2 separate regions of the Homo sapiens genome follow, and region 2 is linked to region 1. Evidence: fine-mapped expression QTL. A gene starts in region 1. The other region holds a variant in brackets. All regions are shown on one strand. Distances are from middle to middle. Region 1 holds the start of DNAH10OS (dynein axonemal heavy chain 10 opposite strand). Region 2 overlaps DNAH10 (dynein axonemal heavy chain 10).

Evidence for each region. PIP is the estimated chance that this variant, and not a neighbour inherited with it, causes the effect.
Region 2: its variant is the best candidate, but not a certain one, in a credible set for the expression of DNAH10OS in whole blood (TOPMed, PIP 0.62).

Annotation. Positions count from the first base shown.
Region 1 is chr12:123,931,188-123,942,529 of GRCh38, forward strand. It overlaps DNAH10OS (dynein axonemal heavy chain 10 opposite strand), which reads right to left and starts at 3,797. Exons shown (of 2, transcript NR_187476.1): 1 at 2,878-3,797. It overlaps DNAH10 (dynein axonemal heavy chain 10), which reads left to right. Exons shown (of 79, transcript NM_001372106.1): 74 at 154-285; 75 at 449-660; 76 at 754-921; 77 at 2,144-2,324; 78 at 3,434-3,579; 79 at 4,148-4,527. The coding sequence ends at 4,294. CCDC92 (coiled-coil domain containing 92) reads right to left here. Exons shown (of 5, transcript NM_025140.3): 5 at 4,439-6,643. The coding sequence ends at 5,871. RefSeq lists enhancers at 6,862-7,362, 7,363-7,863.
Region 2 is chr12:123,845,121-123,853,120 of GRCh38, forward strand. DNAH10 (dynein axonemal heavy chain 10) reads left to right here. Exons shown (of 79, transcript NM_001372106.1): 31 at 480-749; 32 at 851-1,034; 33 at 2,841-2,975; 34 at 3,610-3,762; 35 at 5,768-5,956. Among named protein-coding and RNA genes, the nearest start is that of DNAH10OS, 86 kb to the right of the region's middle. The variant C/T (reference allele first, on the strand shown) is at 3,852.

The DNA of each region.
Region 1 (11,342 bases):
CTGGGTGACTAAGACCCTGTCTCAAAAAAAAAAAAAGTCACCCTCTAAACAGTGGAAATTAGTCTTGCATGTCTTGGAGACTTTGAGGCTGTGGGCCCTGAGAAAGCACAGGTGGCTGGACAGTGCCACCTCCGTTGTTCTCTGTGATTGCAGAAGCCATCGAGGCCCTCCCGCTTGCCAACACGCCAGAAGTGTTTGGTCTCCACCCCAACGCTGAGATTGGCTATTACACGCAGGCGGCTCGAGACATGTGGGCTCACCTGCTGGAGCTGCAGCCTCAGACAGGTAAACTCTACTCAGGAGGACTTCATTAGTTTGATTGGGGTTTTACGATTGCTTCTTGTAGCCCTCCCACGTTGCTGATGCCTTTCCCAGAACTGGAAGGCTCAGGAGGCTCCGGTTCTGCACGTGGATGCCTTGCTTTCTCTGAAAAGTGTCCTGGTTTTAGGGGAATCCAGCAGTGGTATCAGCCGCGATGATTATATTGGCCAAGTGGCCAAAGAAATAGAAAACAAGATGCCCAAAGTCTTTGACTTGGACCAGGTGAGGAAGCGCCTCGGAACAGGACTCTCCCCCACTTCGGTGGTGCTCCTGCAGGAACTGGAACGCTTCAACAAGCTTGTGGTCCGGATGACGAAGTCTCTGGCTGAACTTCAAAGGGTGAGCCTGTCTCTCATGTGCAGATTACTGCCTAGATACGTGGCACCTGGGGTTCTGATAGAGTCCTGCCCGATTGCTCTTGATTCTAAATAGGCCTTGGCTGGAGAAGTTGGAATGAGCAATGAGTTAGATGATGTGGCCAGGTCTCTTTTTATCGGGCATATCCCTAATATCTGGAGAAGGCTTGCTCCTGACACCTTAAAGTCCCTTGGAAACTGGATGGTCTACTTCCTGCGGCGGTTCAGCCAGTACATGTTGTGGGTAAGTGGCACGTCACCGCCTCCTCTCTGCCGATTCAGGTGTCAGCCTAGACTCCTCAAACCACCTCCCAATCCCCTCTTTCCATTGCCCAGCAGTAACCTCTGTTAAAGTTTATTGGGTGCTCTGGAAATGGTCTGAGATTCTTACAAGCCTATCTGTATCTTTTGTTTTTCCTTTTCTTTTGAAGACTTTGAAGCATACTCTTACATACCCGATTATTTTATCTAAGTGTATATCTTGGCACTTGTTCCATATTAGTACACAGCTAGCTCGTTCTTTTTTAGAGTATGCCATTGTACAAATGTTTCATATCCTTTCTCCTCCTTCTGTATCCTAAAAATATGGTAACTGCCTACATTTCGGTGGTTACCATTTTTTTTTTTTTTTTGCTAATACAAATAACATTCTGGTGCACATGTATATGAATATGCATAGGGGTATATTCCATGGGTAAATTCTGACAGTGGAAGAGTTGGATCAAAGAGCTTGTGCATTTTAAATTTTGATAGCTCTTGTTGGATGGTTCTTAGAAAGGCTGAAACCACAGTCTATGAGAGTGCTTCTTTCCTCACTCCGCTGCAATGCTGCGTTCTTAACATTTTGGATCACTGTCTCCCTGATAGGTGAAAATAATATCTCATTGTTTTGCATGTCTTTAATTATGGTGAGTCTGAGCGTATTTTGCATGCTTTACAGACATTTTGTGTTTGTTTTTCTGTGAATTGTCCTTTTGTATCTGGATTTCATTTTTAGTGAGGTCTCCATCTTTCTCATTGATGTTTAAGAGCTCTTTGCAAATCAAAGAAATTAGCCCTTGGTCTGCCAGTGTTGCAGGTATTTCTCCAAGCTTGTCATAAGTCTTGACTTTGCTTACGGTATTTTTTCCACAGAAAAGCTTTACATTTTTCCGTAGTCAAACCTACAAGGCTTTTCTTTTTTATCCTGGGCTTTGTATTTCCTACTCCACGATATGAAAGCATTCATTGGAGATGTGGCCCAGTACTTTTGTGGTTTTATTTATTTTTATATCTAAATCTTTGATCTACCTGGAATGTGGCAGTCCAGATTGTTTTTCTCAGACAGGCGGCCAGTTGTGCCAACGCCATCTTTTGCCACTTAGGTGAAATATGTCTTTTATCATAAACTAAACTTCCAGGCCAGCTTTGACCTGGCATTGGATGGCAGCCCCAGGCTCCCAGCACTTGTCCTCTCTTCTCTCCAGGTGACCGAGAGCGAGCCCAGCGTGATGTGGCTCTCGGGGCTGCACATCCCTGAGTCCTACCTCACGGCGCTGGTGCAGGCCACCTGCCGGAAGAACGGCTGGCCACTGGACCGCTCCACCTTGTTCACACAAGTGACCAAGTTCCAGGATGCAGATGAAGTGAATGAGCGGGCGGGACAAGGTACCGTCAGCTCGTTAGGGATCCACAGCCTCTCACTTAGGATTTCTCTCCCTGAACCACCTCCAACTCAAAGGGACAGGCATAGCGTGGGCCTAAATGGGCCAGGCCATGTTTGAAAGCCAGCCTGCTGCAAATATTTCCTGTGTCTCTGCACTGCCCATGTCTTAACACCTCTGAGGGTGGATACGGAAGTTTCTCTTCCACTTTCTCCGTTGAGACCTGGGGTCTATGGCAGGGGAGACCTGAACCATGTTCACTCTGCTAGCTCATGGCAAGTGGGCTCCTAGGTCAGAATTAGCTCTTGCAAAAACCATCAGGTGGCTTTCTTGTAACCCCTGACGGGGCCAGGGGCATGGGAGCCACAGAGCAGCATGGACTAACTTGGTTGGAACTCTTTGATTATGCCAGAACTTCAGGTCCCTTAGACATTGGTTACTGACTGTGCAAATGAGAGCTGGAAACTGCTGTTTCCCCGGGTCCATGTTGTCTTAGAGTTCTTTTAACTGCAAGGAACAAAAGCTCTTTTGAGATGGCTTAAGGACTGGGGACTTACGGTAAAGATGCAGGGACTCTCCAGGTCTCAGTGGCAGGGGAGGTGGCAGGTGTCCGGGCCACCACTCTCTCTGGGGCCACAGGAGTGTGTTCCTCTCTTTGCACATCTGCTGGGTCCTCCTCCCCGGAGACCACTTTCTCTGTGAGGCTTCGACTTCCTGCTCCCCAGCCACTTCGGCTCACAGGGTAGCTGGGGTTGCCATGGTGCCCATTCTGACTCTGGGACCATGCATCTTTCTAGCCTGGGGGCCCAGGGTGGTCTAAGTCCGTGGGCCTTGATGCCCCAGGAATGAGGATTCCTGGGGGAGAGGCCACCGCCCCACACCCATTTCTCTGGGCCATGGGGCAGGGCCACAGGGTCTCCTGTCTGGGCTGCTCCTCCACAGAGGGAAGGTGGGCAGGACAGAAATGCTGGAGAAGGGCCTGGGCTGTCCCCAATGCGCTGGGGAGGAGGCCAGCCAGTGGCCTGTGTGTCGCTGTGTGTGCGCCTGATAGAGCCACTCCGTGGCAGGCTGTGCATGCTCCAGTTGTATCCAGTCTCTGCCTTGTGTCCCTAGGATGCTTTGTCTCAGGACTGTACCTGGAAGGTGCTGACTGGGATATAGAAAAAGGATGTCTTATCAAGAGCAAACCCAAGGTGCTGGTTGTGGACCTGCCGATCCTGAAGATCATCCCCATTGAAGCCCATCGCCTCAAGCTGCAGGTGAAGGTCCCAGCCCCTCCTCTCTGACACCAGGGCCCTTCCTCTTCTGACTGTAGTTATGGCTGAGGTGGTTTCCAACAGTCCTACTTTTTAAAACAGGGGTGCCTAAGCTTTATGGGCTGGGGAGAGTCTTGGAGCCGTGATAAAAGCTACGGATAGCTGCTTCCTGGAAAAGGCGCGGCTGTATGTGTGTGTGGATGCCGGTCCTTCCAGAGGTGTCAGGCTCAAGCTGTGATCCTGTGGTCTAGACTAACCAAGGGGAGACTCCCTCCCTTCTTGCAAAATGCTGCAGACATTGCCTGAGTCATAAAGTGGTTCCCGCTGGTGTGGACAGCAGATGTCTTCTGCTCTGCCTGGGCCAGGACCCACTTTTAACCAGGGTGTCAGTGTGAAGCCAGGTCCCCGTGAAGCTGGCGGAGGGTGGCCCTGAGCAGCCCCAGCCTTGTGCGTGTTCTCAGGTGCAGTCTTGCACAGGGGCCCCTGCCTGTCAAGACTTACACTGCACCTCTGCCTTTATCCCTCTGCACCCTCTCTCCGTGGGGGCATCTCACCTGCCTTTCCCTTGCAGAATACTTTCCGGACCCCCGTCTACACCACCTCCATGAGAAGGAACGCCATGGGAGTCGGCTTGGTTTTTGAAGCTGATCTCTTTACCACGAGGCACATTTCTCACTGGGTGCTGCAAGGAGTATGCCTCACCCTGAATTCTGATTAACCTTTGGGTGAAGAAAACTGCTTAATGAATTCGGAGCCTGGGGTTGTCAGAGTGATCGGGTCTGCTGTCATTTCTTGGGGCCTCTCAAGAGGCAGGAGGGGGACTGACACTGATTTTTCATTTGAAATCAGCCACTTAAATCTCTTTCCATACAAATTAACCTGAATGGTTTTGTTTTTAATACTACTTTTTAAAAGGAATTTATATAATCAAAAAGTAAATATTGGAGAGTATTTTAAGATGTGTGGAGTTTTCTTTTCCTTCTCAGAGAAAACACTTGATTAGGCAAAAGTGCCTGGCATACATAGCATTGGCACAAGTGAGAATCCTAATGTAATTTCCAAAGGTGTGTTTTCGATGATCCAGGTCTGTTTCAGCAGATGCTCCTTTTTGGCAAGAAGGGCTGATGATGTCGGGCACAGAGCAGAAGTGACCAGTCACCTGGAGCCACTTCTCCCCCTTCCAGAACTCTCTGGCCCTAGCTTCTTTGGCTCTGACCTGCTACGGCGACTGTGAAGTTGTTGAGCTTAGTGTTTAGTTCCTGCATGAGCTTCTACCCCCAGCCTGCCTGGGTCTGTGTGGGGTCAGGTAAGGACACAGAACCTCCAGGACCAGTGGTCACTGGGCACCCCTTCCCTCTGTGCACCATGAGGCTGGCCTGGAGCCCTGGCTGGCCACCTGGAGGTGAGGGGTGGCTTCACTCCATGAGGGAGGAGAGGGGCTAGCACGGGCAGCACAGTGGGCAGGGGCCATCAGAGGCAAAAGCAGCTTCCCACAGAAGCTCAGGAGCGCAGCACATTCTAAGGACTAGCTCTGGGCCGGGAGGAGGCCGGAGTCGCTTCTGGGACCTGTGATTGCTCTCCCTCCTGCAGTCTCCTAGCCCTCCTTCAGGTGTTTGTTTAATAAAAGACACAAAACAGAAGGAAGGCAGGTTTAGAAAATAAAGTTTGTTGGGATCTTAAACATTTTGGATAAAACTAACAAAAAAATATGAACACACATTCAGGTTGTGGTGCTATGAGGAGTAGCGTCATCTTATTTAGTTCCTTGAGATACACGCACGGCTGCTCGGTGATCGGTGCCGCCCTGGGAAAGGTTGGTCAGGAGGTGACAGGGGTCTCCAGGAGGAGCTCGGGAGGTGACAAGGGTCTCCAGGAGGGAGCAGGGGCTGCTCGGCCAGGCTGCCCTGGAGCTTGAGGATAAGGTCAAGGTTGGTATGTGTTGCTCCGACTTGAGAATGAATTAGGTGTGTGACTGTGTGGCATCGTGAACATCAGTAGTGACGCAGCCGTGGCCTGGGCTTTGCCTGCAGCGCACTTAGGTTACACGGAGCGGGATCAGAAGCAAGCGATTCGGCACACAGGCGTTTGGCCACAGCAATTAGGAAATACATATTCTGCGGCAGGGACACGATCATATTTTGGTGTGAAGAAGAGGGCAAGAGAAGCAGAAGGAGAATGGGTCGGTAGGTGTGAAAAGTGTTTGGCATGCATGGGATTAAACAGAAAAGGTGTGGCTGAGATTTCCCAGTGGTGCTCACAGTGCATGGACAGCGCGGGGTGGGGCACGGCGGGCTTCACACAGTTCTGTCCGTCCCTGAGTGCTTCCTCACCACCTTGCCTCCGTTCACCTGGTCGACCGCCAGGGTCTTCACCTCGGGCTGGGCCTGCGGCGGGGTGGCGTGGTGGATCCGATGTGCCACCCCGACGTGGGCCTTGTGCGGCTTTTCGCGGGCCGGGCTGTGCTGCTCGCCGCTTCGGTCGGAGGCGATGGGGGGGATGACGAGGGGCCTCTCTTTGATGAGGTGGACCTCGGCGGACTCCCTAGCCAGCAGAAATGGGGTGGGGTCGGGCATAGCATCCACTGGTTCCCGCAAAAGGAGTTTCCTGCTCTCTGCCCCGAATCTGTAGACCTCTTCAAATTCCGGGTGCAAGGGGGCTGAGAGGCTCTTTTTCATGCGGCGGCGAGGCGTTTCGGGTAGCTTGTCTTTGGGGGGCGCTGGCTTGTAGCTGGCCAGCACGGGGCTCCCTGACGGGCTGGCATCTGAGGTCCCGCTGGAGCTCATGAGCTTCTTCTTGGCGGCGTGCAGCTGGGAGGTCAGGTAGGCGATGGTGCTGGCCCGCTGCTCCAGCTCGCTAGACAGCAGGGTCAGCTTGTGACTCTTGGCCTTCAGCTCCTCCAGGTACTTCTTCTCTCGCTCCTTGATGGTGTTCTCCAGCACTGTGATCATCGCGTTTTTCTGCTCCAGTTCTTTCAACAACTCAGCATTTTCGTTCTCTTTCACTTTCAGTTGGGCTTCCAGCTCTTCACATCTTTTCTTTAATTCACTGCTTTTAGAAGTCCCGTCTCCTACAAGAATAAGCCGAGGAAGCAGGTGAAGAACTCATTAGACTGAGGCCGAGTGGTGAGGCCTATGGGGCAGGCGGACCTGTCTGGTGGGGGCCCTGTCTAGGCTGTGGGGGCCATGCAGAAGGCAGGGCTGTGGGGGCTCTGGAAAGACCCCTCCCCTCCCCGAGGTGGGGAGATCGGGGCATCTCAGAGGCCCTTTCCGGCTCTTAGTTCTCTGGCCTACTGCATAAAAGAATGTCTCTGAACCTTAAAGATGCTGAACTTAAAACAGGCAATTGCAGAGTATCAGACCTCAGCAAACACTTAGGATTCAACTGGCCGCAAATCCCTCTGTCTGCTCAGATGGCATTTATGGAATGCCTGCTACATTCAAAGTACTGTTTTGAAACTCAAATGTAAAAAGAATTATCCATGTCTATTGAATTAAAATTCTGATGTTTAGAGGAGAAGAGGTGTGGGGCTGTCACCTTTGCTCTGCCGCTGGCCGCCTCTCTCACCCCCCTACCCCCGTCTCTCTCACACACACACACACACAGACTCTTTCCCACTTCCTGCTCAGAGAGTGAGCTGTCTCGCCTCTGTGGCTCTTACCCTTGGTCCCTCCCTGCCCCTGCCCTAACACTTCGGGCCTCTGCCTCCTTTTGCTGTCCCTGGGTGCCTGCCCTCACCCAGTCCTTCAGCAAACACCAGCCACCTCCTTCTCCTGCTCTTCTGGTGACCTGCAGTCCCTGGTCACCTCACATAGCACCCTTGGCTCTAAACCCTGGGTCACCATCCTACTCCTCCTAACGCTGGCTGGCTGGCCATCCTCCTTGCCTGGCCCCTGGGAAGTTCTTTCTAGACTCTTCCTTGCTGGTCTGGAATTCAACTTGAGCATCAGCTCCCGATTCAGTGTCTCCTGAGCACCACTTCTCCAAGTGAGTGTCCGTCAGACACACCCTCAAGTCCAGATAGCTGCTCTGCTTCCCACATCTTGACTCTCCCAGGGAAACTGGATGCAGTCGCCATCCCTGGCCTCCCCTCCCTGACTGTGCCTTTCTGCTGGCTGCTCAGTGCTGCCCCCTCCCTGCTCCTCCAGCCGGCCTTGGTCCCACCTCCTCTCTGGTCTTCGTTTCAGCCCATCCTGTATTTAGGAAGCTTGGTCACCCCCTAAATATTCTTGTCCTCTGTTCAAAATGGTTCCTCACTGCCTAATAAAACCCAAACTGCCAGATGCCTTCCAGTTCCTCAATCTGTCCTGAATGTTATCTGCTCCCACATAAATCAAAGCTTCCATCACTCTCCCCAAGCCACCACCTCTTGTTCTGTCTCTATTGTACCCTCTGTCCTTGCCCTAACTCCAGACCTGCACGCCCAGTTTCCCTGTACCAACTCCACCACCCAGGGCCTGCCTAGGCACTGGACGCCACTGGACGTCTTTCCCGGGCTTCTGTCTGTCTTGCTTTGAATTTTCCCACCTGCCTGAGCTAGCAGCAGCTCTGCAGCATGTCCCGCCGCCAGACTCTGAGCTTTTGAGGGCCCACAGCTGACTGGACTGGTCTTGTGCAGGACACTTGCATGTTACAAGCTCGCTGCAGGTGATGGGCGCTCCTCGACTTAGCATGGGGTCATGTCCCGAAAAATCCAATGTAAGTTGAAAATACCGTAAGTCAAAAGTGTGTTTTCGATATTTTCAGCTTACCATGGGTTTATCTGGACATATCCATGGTAAGTCGAGGAGTGTACTGAATGGGTATTGCCCCATGCAGTTGAAAAATTTTAAGTTGAACCATTGCAAGTTTCTAGTTTTAAAAACCATGTGTCTGTGTGTGTATGTGCAGGTATAATGTCAGCAAATGACCTCCCTAAAAAGGATGCATGCAGTACTACCTTTCATGAGGTTTCTTCTTTTGCCAAAAGGAAAATAGATCCTAAAACACAGTTTCAGAGGTAGAGAGAGGGACAGAGACACACACACGACTCTGTAGACACTGTAAGACCCAGGAGCCCAGCCACCTGGGCTGAACCCCTGCAACCTGAAATGCTGACCTGGGCACGGCATTGGGCCTGGTACCCGCTGTCCTTCCCCCAGGGCCTGTGGGACAACAACCCATGCCTGTCGCAGGGCCTTTGCTTTCAGCCCACACTCGGGTGGACAGTGGGCCTTGGGCTCCTTCCGAGGAAGGGCTGCAACCTCAGACCTTCAACCACATCCCTGGCCTGCTGTGAGCATCCTGGGATTTTTCTTCCCCCAGGCAGTGCTGCAAAAGGCTGATGGACGTTTGGAACATTCAGGAACAAGGCTGTCCCTGGGCTTTGCTCATGTCCTGTGAGGGGCAGCCCACAAAGGCAGAGGGCCCTGGTGGTCGGACTGGGGACTTGGATTTGTGGGGCACCTGTCAGATGAAGATGCAGGTTCAGAGATGTCAAAGAACCTGCCCAAGGCCACACAGCCCCTCCGAGTCAGAGCAGAGGCCCAAATCTGGGGCTCATTAAGCATCACTCTGGTTCTTTTCGCCACAGCATCCTGAGAGAAGCTCCTCCTGGATAGACATCCTCCTCATCATCCTTCCTTGAGAGTCATCTAGCTGTGCTGCCTCCTCCTCCAGGGTGCAGCCTTGGCTCCGGGCTGATGTTTACCGGCCCCGACTTGAGTGGGCCGTCCTGTGGGAAGGAGCTGGTACGACTGCTCCTCCATCCCCAGCTCTGGAGAGCTGCTTCAGTGACTGTCCTTCCCAGGAATCAGCACCTCCTGTTTTGCCAATTTCTTGCTCTTTATAGAAAGCTCCACTCCACCTCCTCCTCTGTACGTACCCCCTTTCTGGAAATTTCAGTCTTCCCATGAAAGCTTGGTGCACACTGAGCTGACAGCAGCCAACTGCTGCTGGTCTCCAAACGCTGCACTGCTGAGCCTGCCCGAGCGTCAGGGCACTGCAACGCTTCTAAACCTGCGCACTCCCTGGGCCCGCCCAGACTTCTGGGGTCACAGCCCCCAGGGGAGGGAAGCCAAGAGTCTATGCTGTACCCTGGGTCCCGAAACTGCTTGGAATTGGGCAGTTTTGGGTGCACTAATGTAAAACAATGATTTTCACCACTGGGAGGGGAGACGCCCCGACTGGAACCACCTGAGAGGCTTTTGAAACTGCCTCCCCTAAGACACAGCCCTTGCTGTGAGACCCTGCTGCTGCTGGGAGTACTACATCAGGTGGGTGGGTGGGTGGGCAGGTGGCCTTGGGACCTCAGGTTGAGAACCGTGACTGGAGAGGCCACAGGGCAAAACTATGCTGCTTCAGATTAGCCTGGGCCAGGAGAGGACAGGGAGCGAGGACGCCCTGGCTTCCATGACACGGGTAGCTCCTTTCCCAAGGCTTCAGTGCTGGCAGGTGTGGACGCTGGAGGTCCCTAGTGTCAGGCTGAAATCCTGTTCCTCTGCATTCCCACAGGCCCAGCTCCCAGTCCCAGGGCTTCGGGGGAGGTCCCTGGTATCCCTCCACAGGGAGACTTCTGAGGACAGGCTCCCATTCCACCACCCCAAGAAGCCCACGGCGCCTTCCCTACCACACGCAGACAAAAAGATGTCTGGGCTCCTGGGTGGCGCACTCAGGAGGCTGTAATATGAGCAATGCAAATGGAAAAAAATCAGTGCTCGGTAATCCACTAAGGCTTGGTGGAAATGGTCTGTGTCTTTTACAAGGAACTGGACACTCTCATGAATAGTAACTGCCATTGTGAGGCCTGTTTAGAAAAAGGCATTGTGGGGAATGGAGAAGTTCTTCAAAGTTTCTTGAAACCATAAAGAGCTTGTCATTTCCTTGCTCTATGTATATCTCTATATATGTTCCAGTGTAGCTGCTCCGCCTTGCCCCGGCACGCCTGCGCAGGGCTGAGCGAGCCCTGGACCATAGTGCATGCTCTTCCTTATTTGGAAACTCTCCTGACCCTCTCATGACTAGCTTCCTCTTTTCTTTGTCCTCTTTCCCTTTTGCCTATTTAGGAAAGTTTCAAGCTGTTAGCCAATCGGGTCAAGCTTAGAATGTGAGGTCCCATTCCAGTCAATGGAAACTGGACACAGTCATAGGGCAATTGCATCAGGTTATGAAGATTATAAATGTCCTCGTCTCCTTTGTTTGAGTGTGCTCTCGTGGTAAGACTGCTGGCGAGTTGCACCCTTTCTGCAGAAAGTAAACTAGCCTTGCTGAGCCATCCATTGCCTTCCCGACGTGATAAACCCGTTTCCAACAGGTGTCTCTGCACAAACATGGATTCAGCACTTTCCAAACACCCACCCTGTTTTAGGGAGCAGGCTCTTTGCAGCAGGCACAGAGGGCCCTGGGAAGGCCTGGGTTTCTGTCTCTTCTCTGGCGGCCAGCAGGCAGCTGCCCTTTGGGGTTTCCTGAGGTCCTGGAGGATTCTGGTTTGGGGAGGGTTCTGGGGCTGTAGTCCAGAGAAAGCCCCAGATCCTCAGGGAGCTGTCTAGTAATGTGACCACTCGCCCGCCAGCATTTAGCAAGCTGCTGCTCTGTGCCAGGCCCATGCTAGGCGGCAGCGACACGGAGGAGCGGGGGCGGTTCTGCCCAATGCTGCTGCTGCTGTTACTCCTCCTTTTGGGTTTAACTCACGTCTATTTTTATGTCCTGATTACACAAGGAACACATGTTCATTGTAGGAAAATCAGAAAAACATATAATAGGCATTCCAAATATATGTGTCATTCAAAAGA
Region 2 (8,000 bases), 88 kb before region 1:
GAGTAGCTGGGACTACAGGCATGCGTCATTATGCCTGGCTAGTTTTTAATTTATTTTTTGTAGAGATAGGGTTTTGCTATGTTGCCCAGGCTAGTCTTGAACTCCTGGCTTCAAGTGATCCTCTTCCTTGGCCTCCCAAAGTGTTGGGTTTACAGGCGTGAGCTACCACGACTGGCCCCAAACATTTAAAAAGTGATCTGGCATCTTTCTGTGCAGTCAGGTACCTGCAACATTTTTTGTGGAGAGAGGCACCCTCGGCCTGGAATTTTACTACCTAGTCGGAGATAGGTAACATCTTACTCTCACCTAAGTCTTACTCCTCTGACTTACTTAGGTAAACAAATACAGGCACTTGCTTACCTAAAACCTTTACTTTGCCCTCCCTATTCCAGATCAAAGAAATAAATTCCTGAAGGGACTGTTTTGGGTACCAGTCCCCGGATTGATCAGAGCCTCTTACAGGTGTGCGTTTTCTGCAGAGTCGACTGGATGCTCCTGTACCAGGGCATGGTGGTGCTGGCCGCTAGCCAGGTGTGGTGGACCTGGGAGGTGGAAGACGTCTTCCACAAAGCGCAAAAAGGGGAGAAGCAGGCCATGAAGAACTATGGCAGGAAAATGCACCGGCAGATCGATGAGTTGGTAACGCGCATCACCATGCCGCTAAGCAAAAACGACAGGAAAAAATACAACACTGTTCTCATCATTGATGTGCATGCCAGAGACATAGTTGATTCTTTCATAAGAGGCAGGTGAGCATTTTCCGGGGTCACTGGCATTTCAAAAGGGACCCTTTGTGGTCCGCTGATCTGTCTCAACGGTTTCCACTTCCTCCACCTTTCTTGCCGTCCAGTATCCTGGAGGCCCGAGAGTTTGACTGGGAAAGTCAGTTGCGGTTTTATTGGGACCGGGAGCCGGATGAGCTGAACATCCGCCAGTGCACGGGAACCTTTGGCTACGGCTACGAGTACATGGGCCTGAACGGCAGGCTGGTCATCACGCCCCTCACCGATCGGATTTACCTGACGCTCACCCAGGTGACTGCCAGCCTGGCACTTGTGGTTACCACTTACCTTGGGGCGGGGCATTTTCTCTAAGCTTGAGGTGTGATGACTGCAGTGATTGAAATAGCAGGGGAGATCATTGCTTTGAAATCTCGAAAAGCTTTTCCATTTGGGATGTGACCAGATTGTCACCATTTGGGATTGGCATGTAAGTGTGGCCGTGCTTAGCCACTGGTACACTGGTCCCTAGGTAATGGTGTGTCAGGGGTATTGGTAGAGGCCAATGCGAAAATGCAGGAATGTCAAAGGTGGTGACTGTTAGGGCAAGTGTGATGTGGTTTTGCACGTCTTGTGACAGCTTTTATTCCAGAATATATCCGTTCAAGTGAACGGCCTTGGATGATAGAGATAGTGTCTCCCTCCAGGACAGAGGGTAAACTTGTTTGTTGTACAGGAAATGAAGATAACACTTCCATCCAGGCAGAGCTTGGGAAGGTTTGCAAGCAACCCCCAAGACTGTTTGTCAGATGCTTGCTAGTTTTCTTTTTTTAAATTAGAGATGAGGTCTTGATATGTTGCCCAGGCTTGCCTTGAACTCCTGGCCTCAAGTGATCCTCCCACCTTGGCCTCCTGAGTAGCTAGGACTATAGCATTCACTGCTGCACCTGGCTACATTGGTGGTCTCTTAGGCTCACAGTTTCTCAGCTGTGACTCATACCCACTGTGGATGTGGCATGCACCTGGGCCCGTCTCCACATCACACCATGGGATTTGGGGGGACAAGGATAAAGGGAATGAGTGAGAACAGGAAGCCCCTGCTGCCTCCTGTGCTGTGAGTGATAAAGTCCTTTGTTTTTGAGAAAAAGAGTGTCATCTTATCTGTATTGGTTAGGGTTCCACAGAGAAATAGAACCAATAGGACATAGCTAGCTAGCTGGATGGCTGTCTGTCTGTCTGTGTATCTATCTATCTATCTAATCTATCTATCTTATCCATCCATCCGTGCATCCATCCATCTACATATCCATCCATCCATCCATCCATCCATCCATCCATCCATCCATCCATCCATGTATCTATCCATCCATCCATCCTATTATCTATCTATCTATCTATCTATCTATCTATCTATCTATCTATCTATCCATCCATCCATCCTGTCTATTTATCATCTCGATCATCTATTTTATCTATCTATCTATCTATCTATCTATCTATCTATCTATCTATCTGGATATTTAGGAGGAGATTTATTATGAGGTATTGACTCATGTGATGATAGGGTCTGATTACTCTCACAATCTGCCATCTGCAAGCTGGAGGACCAGGAAGGCCAGTAGCATTTGAAGTTCTGACAGTGAGAGAGCCAATAGTGTAGACTCGTGTCTGGGTCTGAGGGCCTGAGAACCCGAAGTGCCAAGGGTAGAAGCCCAGTGCCCTGGCTCAGTCAGTCAGGCAGCACCAGTGTAACCTCCCTCCATCCTTCTGTTCTGTTCAGTCTTCAATGGATTAGATGATCAGGCAGCACCAATGTAACCTCCCTCCATCCTTCTGTTCTGTTCAGTCTTTAATGGATTAGATGAGGCCCACCCACTTTGGGGAGGGTCATCTGCTTTTCTCAAATGCTAATCTCTTCCTGAAACACACTCATGGACACTCCCAGAAATAATGTTTAGCCAGCTACCTGGGCATCCTGTGGCCCAGTCAAGTTGACACATGAAAGCAAACACCACATTCTTTCTCTATTCTGCACCTATAGTCACAGTGATGAATTTGGAAATGACACCCACTTCCTTCTGTGCACCAGAAAACATATGTTTTGCATTTGGCTTATAACAGGCGCTGTCCATGTATCTAGGTGGGGCCCCCGCCGGCCCAGCAGGAACCGGCAAAACCGAGACCACCAAGGACCTGGCGAAAGCCTTGGGCTTGCTCTGTGTTGTCACCAACTGTGGCGAAGGCATGGATTACAGGGTAAGGCCTGGCTGTCACCTTTGGTACTGGCTCATTAGGCAGAGAGCTTAAAGCAGGACATGGCATTTCACCTCCTAGTCTTTGACATGGCGACAGTGGAAGAAGCTAGTAGAAAACCTTCCACCACCACAGCCCCAGAACCTAAGTGTGTCTGCTTAAAGACCCTGCTTTGTTAGCAGGATGTAGAGCAAGAGTCCCGGATTCACTACCCTAGTAGGGTCAGGTTGATAATGTACGTGAGTAAAGCGGCCAGCAGACAAGAGAGTGGTGGGATCTGTGGCTAACTGGAGAGCAAAAGTCCATCTAAAGAGGGTGCCCGTCCAGCTTTGGTTCATAATCACCATTTGGGAAAGTGGACCCAGCATTGCTAGATTTTCCCACATTTCAAGAGAAGAGAAGAGAAATGGAGTTTTACACAAAAATCTGGATTTGTAAAATCCCAAGTAGGAGCCAGCCCATGAGGGGCCTTGGAAGTCCTGCCAGAAAAATCCACTAGTCAAGTGGCTGGTCACCTGCTTCTCTGCCAATCAGTGATCTCATTGTTTGCTTTAATTTAGAAAATATATCCATAAATGTGTTGCTTGCAGTTTTAAAGATGAAAATTGCCCTTGTCCTGACATGTCTTTCTTCCTAGGCCGTGGGGAAGATTTTCTCTGGCCTGGCACAGTGCGGGGCTTGGGGCTGCTTTGATGAGTTTAATCGAATCGATGCTTCTGTGCTCTCCGTGATCTCCTCCCAGATCCAGACGATCCGAAATGCTCTGATCCATCAGTTAACCACGTTCCAGGTGAGACACATGAAGCCCCCGGGACCATGTCCCTAGGATGGAAGTTTGCCAAGTATGGTAAGCTTCCTCTGTAGCGTCAGTTTCTGGGC[C/T]GTTGACACTCCAGACCAGGCTTCCTGTAGAAGATCTGTTGGTTTTTCCAATTGAGATGATTGGGTTTCCAAAATTATCATCATTGATGATAAGGTTTGTAATAGTCCAAGGACTTCACACTGACTCCAGACACAGAACCAATAGTTATGAATGGGCGTGGGGCAGAGTTCTCAAATAAGTGATGTGCAGGGTCCCCTAGAAAGGAAACAATATTCTTGGCGACTTCCCAAGTTTGAGAAAACCTGACTTAGAAAGCGAATGTTCCTTGCAATCATTATCACAGTGAACAAGAAATTTTGCCTTCATACCTTGTGAAGTTACGGCATCATAACAAGCAGGATTTGCAAGGTTATCAAAGTGAGAAGGCAGAATTTTAAAACAATTGTTGAGAATTCACCAATTTCTCTCTGCCAAAGAATATGTTTGCAGACTTGAGTTTGAGAAGTCTGCATTAAATTACACCAGATTAAGCTGGATCCAAATTTGGAGAAACATGATCTTATTATGTAATCTAGGTGGCCCAGAAGGGGATTCTCTGAAAACACAGGACCAGCGTGGGTGGGCCATTTCCCTACACCGGGGTCTTCTGGGTCCCTTGCTGTCCTTCTGCCTCTGTCCTCCCCCCTCCATGCCCTGCACACTTGTCACTAAGCCACTTGCTCCACAGTCATACCATGCCTTGTGACACCACATGTGTCCCCATCTGAGTGGAATTGTCCCTTCTTCCCTTCACTGGAAAACTCCTATACATCCTTTAGAGCCCCATTCCAGGATGAAAATTCAGCTTGAGCTGGTGGCCCTGTCATCTCACATGCGTCCTCCTCAGATCTTGGCAGGGCTCACTGTTAAGAGATTGTGTCAGCTGGAGACTGTTCAATATTTTCAGGATTCCAGTAAAGGGTCTGGATAGATTTCCCTTTGATGAGTTCTTTTGAGGGATTTTTGGGGCTGAGCTGACTGCTCCCGAGAGAGGGAATTAACCTGCAATGTATATAGATTTCCAGAAGCTGTGTTTCTCAGAGCCAGGAGGCAGCAGCTATCTGCTCTTCCCCCTGGGCCATCTGGGCCATCTGGGCCTCTTGTGGGATACTGAGGCTAGGGATGGTCTCAGGGCCGACCTATGAGTCAAGGCAGTGGCCTTGTTTTGGGGGAGGCTGGCTGTCTTCCGGGCTGCCCTCTCGTTGGTGATGCAGACTGTGCCTCCTAACAACAAAAATTTTCTGTCCTCTGCCTGGCTGGTGGACAATCAAAAAAAATAAAATAGAAAACTTCACCGAGAGACGACCGGACTCAACCTTCAGCTAAAAAGGCTAAGAATATAGGGATTTCCGTGGTTTGTTGGTACCTGGGGCAACCAGAGGAATGAAGACTGGTTTCTTGAGGGGTTTGAGGTGGGATTCTTTAGGCAGGAGTGACTGCATGAAGTCCAGGCACCCGCAGAAGGTGCAAAGCCAGGTGAGAGGAATGGAAGCCGGCGCTGTGTGAGGTGGTGGGCTGGGCGCTCCCAACCTGGGCTGTCTCCTTTCATCGCCACAGCCGTGCCACGAGGTGGGTTGCATTTCTGTTGTGCAGAAAAATAAACTGAGACTCAGAGAGGTTAAGTGACCTGCTGAGGGTCACACAGCTTCTTGTATCAGCCCCAGACTCTGTGCTTCGCCAACCTGGGCCCCTTCTCCAAGGTAGTGCCCTGGGTTCAGGTCTGAGTTTGGGGTTCCACTGAGACCTGCCCTCCCCAAGGCCTTCAGCGAGGGGGGCCCTGCATTGAACACCGGGGAGGGAAAAAGAGACAAGTGGTGTTGTCAGCCTCATACCATGAAAATGAATCGCCACGCAGCTCGCCGCAGGCCCCCTTTCCAAGGGGCTGGCCGGCCGGGCCACCTAACTGCTTCTTTCTTTCTTCCTTCTTGCCCTCCAGTTTGAAGGGCAGGAGATTTCCCTGGACTCCCGCATGGGCATCTTCATCACCATGAACCCCGGCTACGCAGGCCGCACGGAGCTGCCCGAGTCGGTGAAGGCGCTGTTCAGGCCTGTGGTCGTGATCGTGCCCGACCTGCAGCAGATCTGTGAGATCATGCTCTTCTCTGAGGGCTTCCTGGAGGCCAAGGTGGGGGGCCTTGGCAGCGCCAGGTCGTGCAGTGCAGACTTCACCCGGGTCTGCTTCCAGACTGGGGACCTAGGACGCGTTAGCTCCGTGTGGCTCTTCCAGACGGGACCTAGGATGTGTCAGCTCCATGTGGCTCTTCCAGATGGGACCTAGGATGTGTTAGCTCCGTGTGGCTCTTCCAGACGGGACCTAGGATGTGTTAGTTCCATGTGGGTCTTCCAGACTGGGGACCTAGGATGTGTTAGCTCCATGTGGCTCTTCCAGACTGGGGACCTAGGATGTGTCAGCTCCATGTGGCTCTTCCAGACTGGGGACCTAGGATGTGTCAGCTCCGTGTGGCTCTTTGATTTTTGTTTTTTTTTTCTGCTGTGTCTCTCTTCTTCCTCCCCCACCTCTTTTTAAATTATAACTTTTAATTTTGGAATAATGTAAGATGCACAAGAGGTTGCAACAATAGTAGCACGGACTTTCCAGGTGCCCCTTCCCCATGAGAACATCTCACATAGCCACAGTCCATTGCCCAAACCAGGGAGTTGGTGTTGGCACAAGTGCCATTAACTCAGGTGTAGACGTTGTGTGGATTTCACCAGGTTTCACATTCTCTCTATGGCGTGTGCGTGTAGTTAGTTCTATGACGTTTTATCACATGTGGATGGGAGTGGCCGTCACCACATCAGGATACAGAACTATTCCATCACCACGACCACAAAGAAGAGAGACAGGGTCTTACTCTGTCACCCAGGCTGGAGTGCAGTGGTGGGATCACAGCTCACTGCAGCCTCAAACTCCTGGGCTCAAGTGATCTTCCTGCCTCAGCCTCCTGAGTATTTGGGACCACAGGCAGATGCCATCACACCTGGCTAATCTTGCTTATTTTTTGTAGAGACAGGGTCTCTACAGCCCAGGCTGGTCTCGAACTTCTGGGCTCCAGTAATCCTCCCACCTCAGCCTCCCGAGTAGCTGGGACTACAGGTTGTGCCACTGCACCCAGCCTCATGTTACTGCTTACTAGACACATTCTCCCCTCAACCCTAACTCCTGCAACCCCTGATCTATTCTTCAGTCAGTGTAATTTTGTCACTTTGAGAATGTTCTCTACCTGGAGACATGTAGTATGGAACCCTTTGAGACGGGCTTCTTTCACTCAGCACAATGCCTTTGAGAATATGTAGATTCAAAAACAACTTTATGGATAACTTTTATCCTCTTTTAAGCTATCTATAAAATGTACATACGTAAGATCTTTCCAGAAGCTCTGGAAAAGTTACAAAATAGAGAATACTTTTAACATAGAGGGTTGTCACATTGCGTTTCTGCAATATGTCTTTTATTGAAAGCTCTTGGTGCCTATTACCGTGTCAGGATTTTGAGTTGGCACGATGAGATCTCTTGTTCCTAGTTTTCACGACTAAAATTGCCACACTTGCCTTAGAGACCTGTGGGTTTTGAACCCTTGCCATAGATGAGGTGGCTGACTTGTCCTCAAAGACATTTACAGCCTTTTTTTTTTTTTTGAGATGGAATCTTGCTCTGTCACCCAGGTTGGAGTGCAGTGGTGTGATCTCAGCTCACTGCAACCTCTGTCTCCCAGGTTCAAGCGGATTCTCCTGCCTCAGCCTCCCAAGTAGCTGGGATTATAGGCATGCGCCACCACGCCTGGCTAATTTTTATATTTTTAGTAGAGACAGGGTTTCACCATGTTGGCTAGGCTGGTCTTGAACTCTTGACCTCAGGTGATCCACCCACCTTGGCGTCCCAAAGTGCTGGGATTACAGGCATGAACAACTATGCTTGGCCCAGTTACAGCCTTAATAATAGGTTTAGGTCAAAATAAAGAAGCAATGTATTTCTGGAGTGTGATTCCTACAGATGGTTCTGTTCTTTAAATTAAGATAGTGAAGATTTTGGTAACACAGATGTTTCTTCAAATTAGTTCCCAATTTGCCATATTTAAAAATGAAGGACCCACCCTGGTATTTCTGGAAGTTAGAGATGGAATTTGCTTATTTGTAGAGCAGCTGCACTGGAACACCTGCCCCCGTTT